Linked DNA regions of Homo sapiens: regions 2, 3 and 4 are each linked to region 1. The links come from fine-mapping of genetic effects on gene expression. A gene starts in region 1. Each other region holds a variant in brackets. All regions are shown on one strand. Distances are between the middles of the regions. Region 1 holds the start of DHX37 (DEAH-box helicase 37). Region 2 holds the start of TRD-GTC2-10 (tRNA-Asp (anticodon GTC) 2-10). Region 3 overlaps DHX37 (DEAH-box helicase 37). Region 4 has its middle 110 kb from the start of LINC00939.

Evidence for each region. PIP is the estimated chance that this variant, and not a neighbour inherited with it, causes the effect.
Region 2: its variant is fine-mapped to the expression of DHX37 in tibial nerve (GTEx, PIP above 0.99).
Region 3: its variant is fine-mapped to the expression of DHX37 in lymphoblastoid cells (GEUVADIS, PIP 0.95).
Region 4: its variant is fine-mapped to the expression of DHX37 in monocytes (Kim-Hellmuth 2017, PIP 0.95).

Annotation. Positions count from the first base shown.
Region 1 is chr12:124,987,604-124,990,288 of GRCh38, forward strand. DHX37 (DEAH-box helicase 37) reads right to left here and starts at 1,528. Exons shown (of 27, transcript NM_032656.4): 1 at 1,314-1,528. The coding sequence starts at 1,419. RefSeq lists a silencer at 1,232-1,441.
Region 2 is chr12:124,939,550-124,942,234 of GRCh38, forward strand. TRD-GTC2-10 (tRNA-Asp (anticodon GTC) 2-10) reads right to left here and starts at 169; the gene lies at 98-169. TRA-TGC4-1 (tRNA-Ala (anticodon TGC) 4-1) reads left to right here and starts at 417; the gene lies at 417-488. RefSeq lists a silencer at 132-211. The variant T/C (reference allele first, on the strand shown) is at 1,097.
Region 3 is chr12:124,951,030-124,953,714 of GRCh38, forward strand. It overlaps DHX37 (DEAH-box helicase 37), which reads right to left. Exons shown (of 27, transcript NM_032656.4): 21 at 1,369-1,541. Among named protein-coding and RNA genes, the nearest start is that of TRA-TGC4-1, 12 kb to the left of the region's middle. The variant C/T (reference allele first, on the strand shown) is at 1,567.
Region 4 is chr12:125,874,167-125,876,851 of GRCh38, forward strand. No RefSeq gene overlaps it. Among named protein-coding and RNA genes, the nearest start is that of LINC00939, 110 kb to the right of the region's middle. The variant T/C (reference allele first, on the strand shown) is at 1,359.

The sequences.
Region 1 (2,685 bases):
CACCCCACCTCTGTAACCTTTCTTTACTTTTCAAAGCAACATATTTTCCCAAATTACCATCTCCAAAACTCTGATAGGAGGTAAGACGGCTACTACAGGTTAAATATCCCTTTCCAGAAATGCTAGGAACCAGACCTGTTTTAGCTTTAGGAACATCTGTATTCTATTCACTGGTTGAGCATCCCTAATCTAAAAATTTGAAATCTGGAATGCTCCAATGAGCATTTCCTTAAGTGTCATGTTGACACTCAAAAACTTTTGAATTTTGGAGTATTTTGGATTAAGGCTGCTCAACGTGTGCTACTGGTCCCATTCTGCAGATGTGAAAACGAAGGCACAGAGATGTTAGGGGATCTGCCTCAACTCCCAGCCTGTCTGTGGAACTTTTTTTTTTTTTTTTTTTTTTTTGAGATGGAGTCTCGCTCTCTCACCCAGGCTAGAGTACAGTGGTGCGATCTTGGCTCACTGCAACCTCCGTATCCTGGGTTCAAGCCATTCTCCTGCCTCAGCCTCCCAAGTAGCTGGGACTACAGGTGCCCACCACCACGCCTCCTCTGCTCTAAATGCTCCCATGGCTGCCCTCTCCCGTAGAGAAAAAGCCCCAGTCCTCGCCAAGACTGCAGTCCAGGCCCGACCTGCCCTGGCCCCCTGTTTTTTCTCTCATCTCCAGGCAGCCACTCAGGTCTCCTTCAGATCTTGACTCTAACAGAGTGATGTCTTCTCCAGCAACTCTATGGGATGCTGCAACCCACCCAATGGCCTCTTCTGTTTTATCTGCTCACTATAGCCGCATAAATTTCTATATGTTTATTCTTTGCCTGTCTCCTCCTATACAGCAGGTAAACTCAGGGATTTTCTAAAAATCTCCCTTTCTGCTATGTCTCCAGTGCCTAGAATAGTGCCTGGCATGTAATAAGGGCTACTCCTAAAAAGGGGTCTGAGAGAAATGTCAGCCAGCCTGGAGCTGAGCAGACAAGACTGGGCTGAAAATACACATTTGGGGGTCGCTGGAGATTATAAAGAGATTATAATCGAAGTCATGGGAAGGGATGGAACTACTCCTGTTTTTTTTGCCAAATTCTCCATGTTACTATTTGAGGGCGAGAGAAATCCCGGGTATTCCATATACACTGTTAAAACTAGGCTGTCACTAAGCCCCTCTCCTTTGGATCATCTGGAATGGGGGGACCCATTCCCCCATTCCAGATGATCCATCCCACCCCTCTGGGATCCCCACCCGAGAGTCCTGAAGGCAGGGCACAGGCCGCCCTGGGAAATCTCCGAAATCCAGCCCCGGTCCGGGGATGTCTTACCCTCCAGTTCCAGCTGCACGGGGGGCGGCTCGGGGGGGCCCTTCGAGGGTCCGGGGCCCGCCTGCTGGCGCCCCTTGATGTTGTAGCGCCGGCGCAGCTTCCCCATGGCGACTAGGCCAGGGTGGGCGCTCCAGCGGCCGGACCAGCAGAGCAATCCGAAACCCAGCCCACGTGGGTTCCCAGACCACCAACTCCGGCCGTGAGACTTCCGGGTTGTGTTATCGCGAGAACTGTAACTGACTTTGCCGCTGAGGGGCGGGGTTGCAAGAGAAACCCAGCGAAGAGGAGAGGCGGAGCCGGGCCGGGCAGGGGGCGGGACTATTTAGAGAAGTAGGCGGGGCCTGAGGTCCCAGCGGAGGCCGGAGTTTAAGTCCTGGGCTGTTCTCGCTTGGGGTAGTCTGGGTTTAAATATGAATTATATCTACTGATACTAATTTGGCTTCTTGGGAGTGGAAGTGTTTTGCCACCTTTTAAAATATACCCCGCCCCCAGTACTCCAAACTTCTTCCCCCCAACCCTGGTTTGCGCATCTGTATTTTCTGATATTCCTACAAGAAACGTATTAGTCGTGTACTTTTAAAAAGGCACCAAATATTTCCATCACAGGGATAGATGGAAGATCTAAAAGGAGGCCTCTACGGGCGCGGTGGCTCACGCCTGTAATCCCAGCACTTTTGGAGGCCGAGGCGGGCGGATCACGAGGTCAGGATTTCAAGACCAGCCTGGCCAAGATGGTGAAACCCCCGTCTCTACCAAAAATACAAAAAAAATTTAGCTAGGCCTGGTGGCAGGCGTCTGTAATCCCAGCTACTTGGGAGGCTGAGGCAGAGAATTGATTGAACCCGGGAGGTGGACGTTGCAGTGAGCCGAGACTGCACCACTGCACTTCAGCCTGGGCAACAGAGCTAGACTCTGTCTCAAAAAAAAAAAAATAAAGTTGTCTATTACATAACTTTAAATTCCCATTACCGCATCACATTGTAACACACTGGGAAACAATGCATTATTATTATTATTGAGACAAGGTCTGGCTTTGTTGCCCAGGCTGGAGTGTAGTGGAGCAATCTCGGCTCACTGCAACCTCTGCCTCCCGGGTTTAAACGATTCTCCTGCCTCAGCCTTCCGAGTAGCTGGGACTACAGGTGCCCGCCACCACCCCCAGCTAGTTTTTGTATTTTAGTAGAGACGGAGTTTCACCATGTTGGCCAGGCTGGTCTCAAACTCCTGACCTCGTGATCTGCCTGCCTGGGCCTCCCAAAGTGCTGGGATTACAGGCATGAGCCACCGCGCCCGACTTTTTTTTTTTTTTTTTTAAGAGATGAGATCTCGCCCTGTGGGCCAGGCCAGAGTGCAGTGGTGCAATCACCACTCG
Region 2 (2,685 bases), 48 kb before region 1:
GCACATCCTCTTATACCTACTCTGTATATTTTGGAACACCGAAAAGCATCGCCAACAAAGTCTCCCCTCTGTATTTAAAAATACGAAAGTACCCGGCCTCCCCGTCGGGGAATCGAACCCCGGTCTCCCGCGTGACAGGCGGGGATACTCACCACTATACTAACGAGGACAAGCCGTACTGTGTTCCCTGCAGCTCCCTTCTTATGTCCATACCATTCTCTCGCTATCGTTCCTAACCTTTCCGGGCCATCCAGGCTCCGCGCCGGGCACCCTGGCTGCTGGGCTTATCCAAGGCGGGTAGAGGCCCCTTTGAGTGGCTGGAGGCACTGCACGTTCCGAAGCTAAGGCACCTGAACTAGCAGAGCGAAGGGCACTTCCTGTATCACCATCCCCAGAAAAGACCAACACAAGGGGTAGGGGATGTAGCTCAGTGGTAGAGCGCATGCTTTGCACGTATGAGGCCCCGGGTTCAATCCCCGGCATCTCCAGACTTTTCCGCCTTTTTCGGGCAAATTACAGTCACGTGGTTACAAAAGCTTGGAAGAGGACCCAGGCAACCCTCAACAACCTGCCTGCGAAGAAAGCTCCCTTGGAAGGGGCTGCGCCAGCACATTTCCCTGCCCCTAATCACAAATGCCCTGGGCCCCTCCACCGGAGATTCGCGTTCAGTAGGTCAGTGACGGGGCCGGGAATCTGCCATTTGAAACGAATACTCCCAGTTATTTGTTTCATCAAGCAGATAGAAAAACATGGATTCCTTAGAAAGGTTCTGCAACTGACCATTCATTAACTCCTGAGGGCCTCATGTCAGGTTCCGTGCATGCACTGAGCACCTACTGTGTGCCGGGTAAAGTGTACGTCCCCTGGTATCCCTGGATAAGACAGGCCAGGCAAGCTTTCTCAGCCTTTTTGGACTTTATAGTCCAGTCCTGGAGACTTAACAATAAGCAAGTAGCGATACGTTTTATGAAGACAATAATAGCGATGAGATGGAAACTCAGGGGTGCAGGAGTGGGGGTTGCTTTAGATTAGCTGCCAGGGGAGACCTCTGCAGAAACAGTGCTTCCAGCGAAGGAAACGGCAGGTGCCAAGGCCC[T/C]GAGGCTGGAGGAAGGGCGCTCAGTGTTGAAGGGGCAGGAAGAAAGCCATGCCCTGGAGCTTAGTGAATGAGGATGAACTTTATCTTCGAAGACACTGGAAGGCCTGACGCAGGGGAACGCGACCAGATTCAGGTTTGAAAAGGCTCCCTCTGGCTGCCATGCGGAGAACACACCCTGGGCGTGGGTGGACGTGGGGAGATCGGGAAGGAGGTGCAGCCACCGCCCAGGAAGCTGCTGGAGACTTCCTCCAGGGGTGCTGCAGAGGAAGTGCGAGCCTGATGGAGTTCAGGACAAATGCTGGACGTGGTTGCATAGTATTTCCTAACGGAGGGGTAGCACGCTTTATTACCATTCCTCCTAGGGATTCGGGTAATTTTGTTTCCTCTCACTGAAGTCTTGTAGTCAGTGATCTGGTGCATGCGTTTTCCTTGCCTTCTGGCGCCGGTACCTCGATGGGGCAGATGTCCACAGGGAGCAATGCAGGGTCAAAGGGCATGGATACTTTTACAAACGTACTTCTCTGTCGCCCAGGCTGGAATGCAGTGGTGCGATCATAGCTCACTGCAGCCTCGAAATCCTTGGCTCAAGAGACCTCCCAGCCTCCCCAAAAGCTGAGACTACAGGTATACTTCACCACCTCCAGCAAATATTTTTCTTTTTTTTTTTTTTGTAGAGACAGGGGTCTCGCTATGTTGTCCAGGCTGGTCTCGAACATCTGGCCTCAAGTGATCCTCTCACCTCAGCCTTCCAAAGTGCTGGGATTACACGCATAAACACCATGCCTGGTTTATTTTAAATATTGCTAGATTTTGGGCCAGGCATGGTGGCTCACACTTGTAATCCCAGCCCTTTGGAAGGGCGAGGTGGGCAGATCACCTGAGGTCAGGAGTTTGAGACCAGCCTGGCCAACATGGTGAAACTTCATCTCTACTAAAAATATAAAAAATTAGCTGGGTGTGGTGGCACACACTTGTAGTCTCAGCTACTCAGGAGGCTGAGGCAGGAGAATCACTTGAACCCAGGAGGCAGAGGTTGCAGTGAGCAGAGATTGCACCACTACACTCCAGCCTGGGCAACAGAGCAAGACTCTGTCTCAGAAAAAAAAAATAAATAAAAACAATAAATATTGCTGGATTTTTTTCTAAAGGCTGTGGCAACTTACATATTCAATAACAATGTATGAAGGTGCTCTTTTCCTTATATTCTCAGCACTGGGTATGGCCATGATTATTAATTTTTCCAATCTGTTGGGTAGGAAGTAGAACTGAATTATTTCTCTGCTTTTTTCCTGCCTACTTTCTAGGGTGTGCATGTTTTCAGGTATCTACCAGCCATGCAGATGCAGGTTTTTGTGTTTTTTTTTCCAGATGGGAATCTCACTCTGTCATCCAGGCTGGAGTGCAGTGGTTGATCTCAAATCTCCACAACCTCCACTTCCTGGGTTCAAATGATTCTCATTCCTCAGGCCCTCGAGTAGCTGGTATTACCGGTGCGCGCCACCATGCCTGGCTAATTTTTGTATTTTTTCATTCAAGACGGTGTTTGGCCATGTTGGCCAGGTTGGTCTCGAACTCCTGGCCTCAGGTGA
Region 3 (2,685 bases), 37 kb before region 1:
GGAGGCCGAGGAGGGTGGATCATCTGAGGTCAAGAGTTCGAGACCAGCCTGGCTGGTTTCACCATGTTGGTGAAACCCCATTTCTACTAAAAATACAAAAAATTAACTGGGCATGGTGGCACACACCTGTAATCCCAGCTACTTGGGAGGCTGAGGCAGGAGAATTGCTTGAACCCGGGAGGTGGAGGTTGCAGTGAGCTGAGATCACGCCATTGCACTCCGGCTTGGGCAATAAGAGCAAAACTCCTTCTCAAAAAAAAAAAAAAAAGGAAGCACCGACACCTGCCATGGCGTGGATGGGGCTTGAAAGCATCACACTAAGTGCAAGAGGCCAGACATGAAAAGCCATGTATGTTAAGATTCCACTCATGCCAAATGTCCAGAACAGGCAGATCCACAGATGGAAAGCAGGATCATGAAAACGGGGGTGACGGGGAACTGGGGACTCACAGCTTACATATGTGGGGTTTCTTTGTTGGGTAATAAAAATGTTCTAAAGTTAACTATGATAATGGTTGCAAAACTCTGTGAAAATACTAAAACCCACTGAATTGAACACTTTAAATGGGTTTAAATGCAGGCCAGATGCAGTGGGTCACACTTGTCATCCTAACACTTTGGGAGGCCAAGGTGGAAGGATTCCTAGAGGCCAGGAGTTCAAGACTAGCCTGGGTAACACTGCTTGTAAGCCCAGCGTTTTGGGAGGCCGAGGTGGGCAGATCACTTGAGGCCAGGAGTTCAAGACCAGCCTGGCCAAAATGGTGAAACCCCTTCTCTACTAAAAATACAAAAATTAGCTGGGCATGGTGGCACACACCTGTAATCCTAGCTATTTGGGAGGCTGAGGCAGGAAAATTGCTGGAACCCAGGAGGTGGAGGTTGCAGTGAGCTGAGTTCGCACCACTATACTCTAATCTGGGCAACAGAGTGAGGCTCTGTCTCAAAAAAGAAAACAACAACAACAAAATTAGTCGGAGGTGGTGGTGTGCCCCCTGCAGTCCCAACTACTCAGGAGGCTGTGGCGAGAAGGTTATTTGTGCCTGGGAATTCGAGGCTGCAGTGAGCTATGATTGTGCCACTGCACTCTATCCTGGGCAACAGAGCGAGACCTTGTTTCTAGAAAACACAAAAAACCCCAAAAGAGTTTAAATGCTGTGTGAATTTTATCTCCACTAAACTGTTATTAAAAAAAAAAAGTTGGGAGAAACTAACCAAGGAAGATGTGATTCTACTGCAAGCCCCACTTGTTCCTCAGTGGGGACCCACAGCTGAGAGGGAACAAGCCTCCCCAGACCCTGAGGGCCCAGCCCGCCTGCCCCTCACCAGGTGCCCCAAGCTACCCGGGCAGGGAGGCGGTGGGGGCCGCACCTTGTAGGCGTTCCTCCACTTGTCCTCCAGCATCTCCTCGCTCTGGACCCTGCGGGCCAAGTGGTCCCCCAGGCCTGCCGTCACGATCTGTCGCAGGTAGGTCACCTGGCTCTCGGTGGGCGGCTGCATCTTGGGATCCACGAAGAGCTCAGCCTCGGGGCACACGGCATTGACTGAGGGGAGAACCAAGAGTGAGGT[C/T]GGTGGTGGCAAGGCCCGGAGCCAGCTCTGCCCTGACCTCCTAGAAAGTCCCAACCATGCTCAGTGCTCTAGCCTCAGCCACCTGCTTGTCTCAACCCCTCCCCAGAGGCCACCAGCAGGACCCAAAGCCCCCAGCAGGCAGGATTGCAGCCGCCCCCCCATTCCCTCCTTCTCCCTTGGGACAAAGCCCCACATCCTGCCTGGGCAGCAGAGCATTCTTCGAGGAGACAGCCCTCCCCTAACACCCAGGTGGCCTCAGACTCAGTTCTGGTCCATGATGTGAAGAAGGAAGTTGCGGCTGGAATTCCTGGGAACGTTCAATACGGGAACAGGACAGCCGGCGGGTGCCCTGGCCTCATCCTTCCCTTCTCTTGCCTGGAAGGCAGAGGTGACTAAGCCTCCAACTACCTCCTCAGCCCAAGAGGTGACCTTAGGATGGAAGGCACAGCGAATGGCAGGAGGATGGCAGCAGAGAAACGCCCTGGGCTGCTGACTCAAGTGACTTCTCTTCCTTGCAACAATAAAGGTCTAATGTCACCAAGCCACTGTAACCAGCACTGTCTGGAGGCTGACTGCAATTCTAAGCTGCTGCACCTGGAATGGGGCTGCTCTGGAAAGCCACAGCCAGAAGGACACAGAGCATGGTGACAGGGCCACCACCATGCACCTGGCGCTGGGAGAAGGATCGGCCGGAAGAGAGCCATCAATTCTGGCATCAAACCTTGGGATCTGCTTAAATGGAAGGCAAATTCTCCACTAGCCTTGGGTGCAAGAACGTGGCCTGCCCAGAAGAGACCCAGTGTCCACGCTGCCCTCTCTACGCATCGTCCTCTTGCCATATGTTGGAGGACATTTCCTTCCTCTCAAGCTTCCCTGGGTGTTGGTGGCAGGAAGTATTTGTGCTGCTGAGCTGAGGTAGAGTCCAGGGCAAGGCCTCATCCTTCTGCATGAGAAGGGTCTGGGGGACATGTGGGAGGGAAGAGGGGTCCAGGCCACAGCGGTGATGGAAAATGGCAGGGGGTATCGCCAGGGAAAAGGTGAAACCGAGCGACGACCTGGTGGGGGAGGGTGCAGGCTGGCAGCTCGAATCTGTTAGTGCCCTGCTCATGTGCACATTCC
Region 4 (2,685 bases), 890 kb after region 1:
ACTAAGACATTTATGTCTCACAGTTCTGGGGGCTGAGAAGTCTAAGATCAAGGTTCCGCTGATTCAGTTCCAGGTGTGGGCCTGCTTCCTGGCATGCAGATGTATGCCTTCGCACTGTGTCCTCACATGGTGGAGAGACAGTGAGAGAAGGAGCAAGCTCTCTGGTGCCTCTTCTTATAAGGGCACTAATGCCATTAAAAGGGTTCCACCCTCATGAATGTTTATGAACATAAGTACCTCCATAAAGGCCCTGTCTCCAAATACCATCACACTGGGGTTAAGTCACCAATATATGAATTTTGGGGAATACAAAGATTCAGTCCATGACAATGGGCTTAGGCTCAGAAGACAAAATATGTGTGAAATGTCCTGGTGACTGTCATACTTGTTTAAATGGTCTATCCACCAAGGATGGTCAGTTGCTCCCCAGAGAAGACTCTCCGTATCTGACTCTTCCCCTGTCCTGGCAGGTGAGACTGTTACCAATGATGACTGATTGCTCAAAATGGAGGGGCTGCAGTGAGAAACTGGAGCAAGAGGGGGCATTTCCAGGGTTGATTCTCAGGGTCCCTGGACCCTGCCACCCATGTAGCTGCAGTTTGTGATCACCTATGACCACACCAACCCTATATTCAATAGAAGACACTGAAAATAGCCTCCCACAAATAATAGTCCACAAAGCCAGCAGCTGTAAGGTCAGCAAAAGAGGCTGCTATGGAACTTGGGATGGAGAAAGGAATCCAGGCCCTCATGTTGGCAAATGATGGACAAAGTTTGGGGACTGTCACTGTGGAGCATGAGATACTAATTAGGGAGAGCATCTGGCATCTGTGCATTACAGAGACAAACCTTTGAGCTGCATTTGATGAGGAAAGAAAGGAAATGCTCCATCAGCGAAATAGAGCCATTGCTCATGAAGTGAGTGCAAATGTGATATTATCCCCTTTCATCATCATCCGATGCCTTGCTAATCAGTAATAAAAAAGATTCTGATAAATTAGGCCTGATGTTCTGCTCTAAAATTAAGTGGGAAGAAAAATAAATTGGGAATGTGTTAATTTTGTCTGTGGCACCTTAGGAATAAGAATATGTCCTATTGCATCCAAATCCTGAATATCCTGTCATGCCACTTGTGTTGCATGAAAAGTGTCCTAGCACAGGTCTATACTGTGGCTGACATGCAGACGGCCAATTGAAAGTGCCAGTTACATTTCTGCATAGTCAGATATCACTGGGTCAAGAAATTTTATTTGCTATTGAAGGCAACCTAATTATTTTATTTTTTATTTTTTTGAGATGGAGTCTCGCTCTGTCACCCAGGCTGGAGTGCAGTGGCGCAATCCCAGCTCACTGCAACC[T/C]TCGCCTCCTGGGTTCAAGCAATTCTCCTGCCTCAGCCTCCTGAGTAGCTGGGATTACAGGCCTGTGCCACCACGCCTGGCAAATTTTTGTATTTTTAATAGAGACAGGGTTTCACCATGTTGACAAGGCTGGTCTCGAACTCTTGACTTCGTGATCCACCAGCCTCGGCCTCCGAAAGTGCTGGATTACAGGCGTGAGCCACCAGGCCCGCCCCTGAAGGCATCATAATTATAAAAGCCTATTGCTTATTATAGGAATAAAAAAGACACTAAAGAAAAACAAAAGGAAGAAAAGAAATATTACCTCTACTCCCAATAGAAATAACCATGATTAGTATTTTGATTTATTTACTGTTAGTGCTTAGTTTAGGCATAAAAGAAAGAAAGAAATACATATATTCATAAATAATGTTCATGAACTTTTAGAAATGGATTTTATTTTTCTGAGGTTTTAATAATTAGACTCATTCTGCTTTTCAAACTTGGCATATTTTAAGCATCTCCCCATGTTATTAAATATTTTTAGAAAACACGAGGTTTTAAAATTATCTCAATAACTTTAAAAATGCAACTTGCTCTTCTTCTCTTTTGTATATTTTAATAGTTGGTTTTTGGCATATGTACCACTAATCCCAGAATTATTACACTTAGGATTATCCTTAGCAAACTATTTCAGGAACAGAAAACCAAATACTGTCTGTTCTCACTTGTAAGTGGGAGCTGAATGATGGGAACACATGGACACATAGAGGAGAACAACACACACTGGGGTCTTTCAGAGGGTGGAGGGTGGGAGGAGGGAGAGGATCAGGAAAAATAACTAATGGGTACTAGTCTTAACACCTGGGTGATGAAATAATCTGTACAACAAACACCCATGATACAAGTTTACCAGTGTAACAAACCTACACATGTACCCCTGAATTTAGAATAAAAGTTAAAAAAAATAAAAATTTACAGATCGCCAGGTTGGGTAGAACCTTAGAAGTGGCTTTGATAGATCTCTATTCAACACACCCTCTACAAAAGGGTTAGAAAGAGTTGGGTTCAAAAACTTAATAACAGTAACAGCAATAATAGTTGTATTTGAGCCCATAATGTATACAGGCTTTGTTCTGAGTTATTTGCATGTATTTTAAAATATATATATATATTTTATTATACTTTAAGTTCTAGGGTACATGTGCACAATGTGCAGGTTTGTTACATATGTATACATGTGTCATGTTGGTGTGTTGCACCCATTAACTCGTCATTTACATTAGGTGTATCTCCTAAGGTTATCCCTCCCACCTCCCCCCACCCCACAACAGGCCCCAGTGTGTGA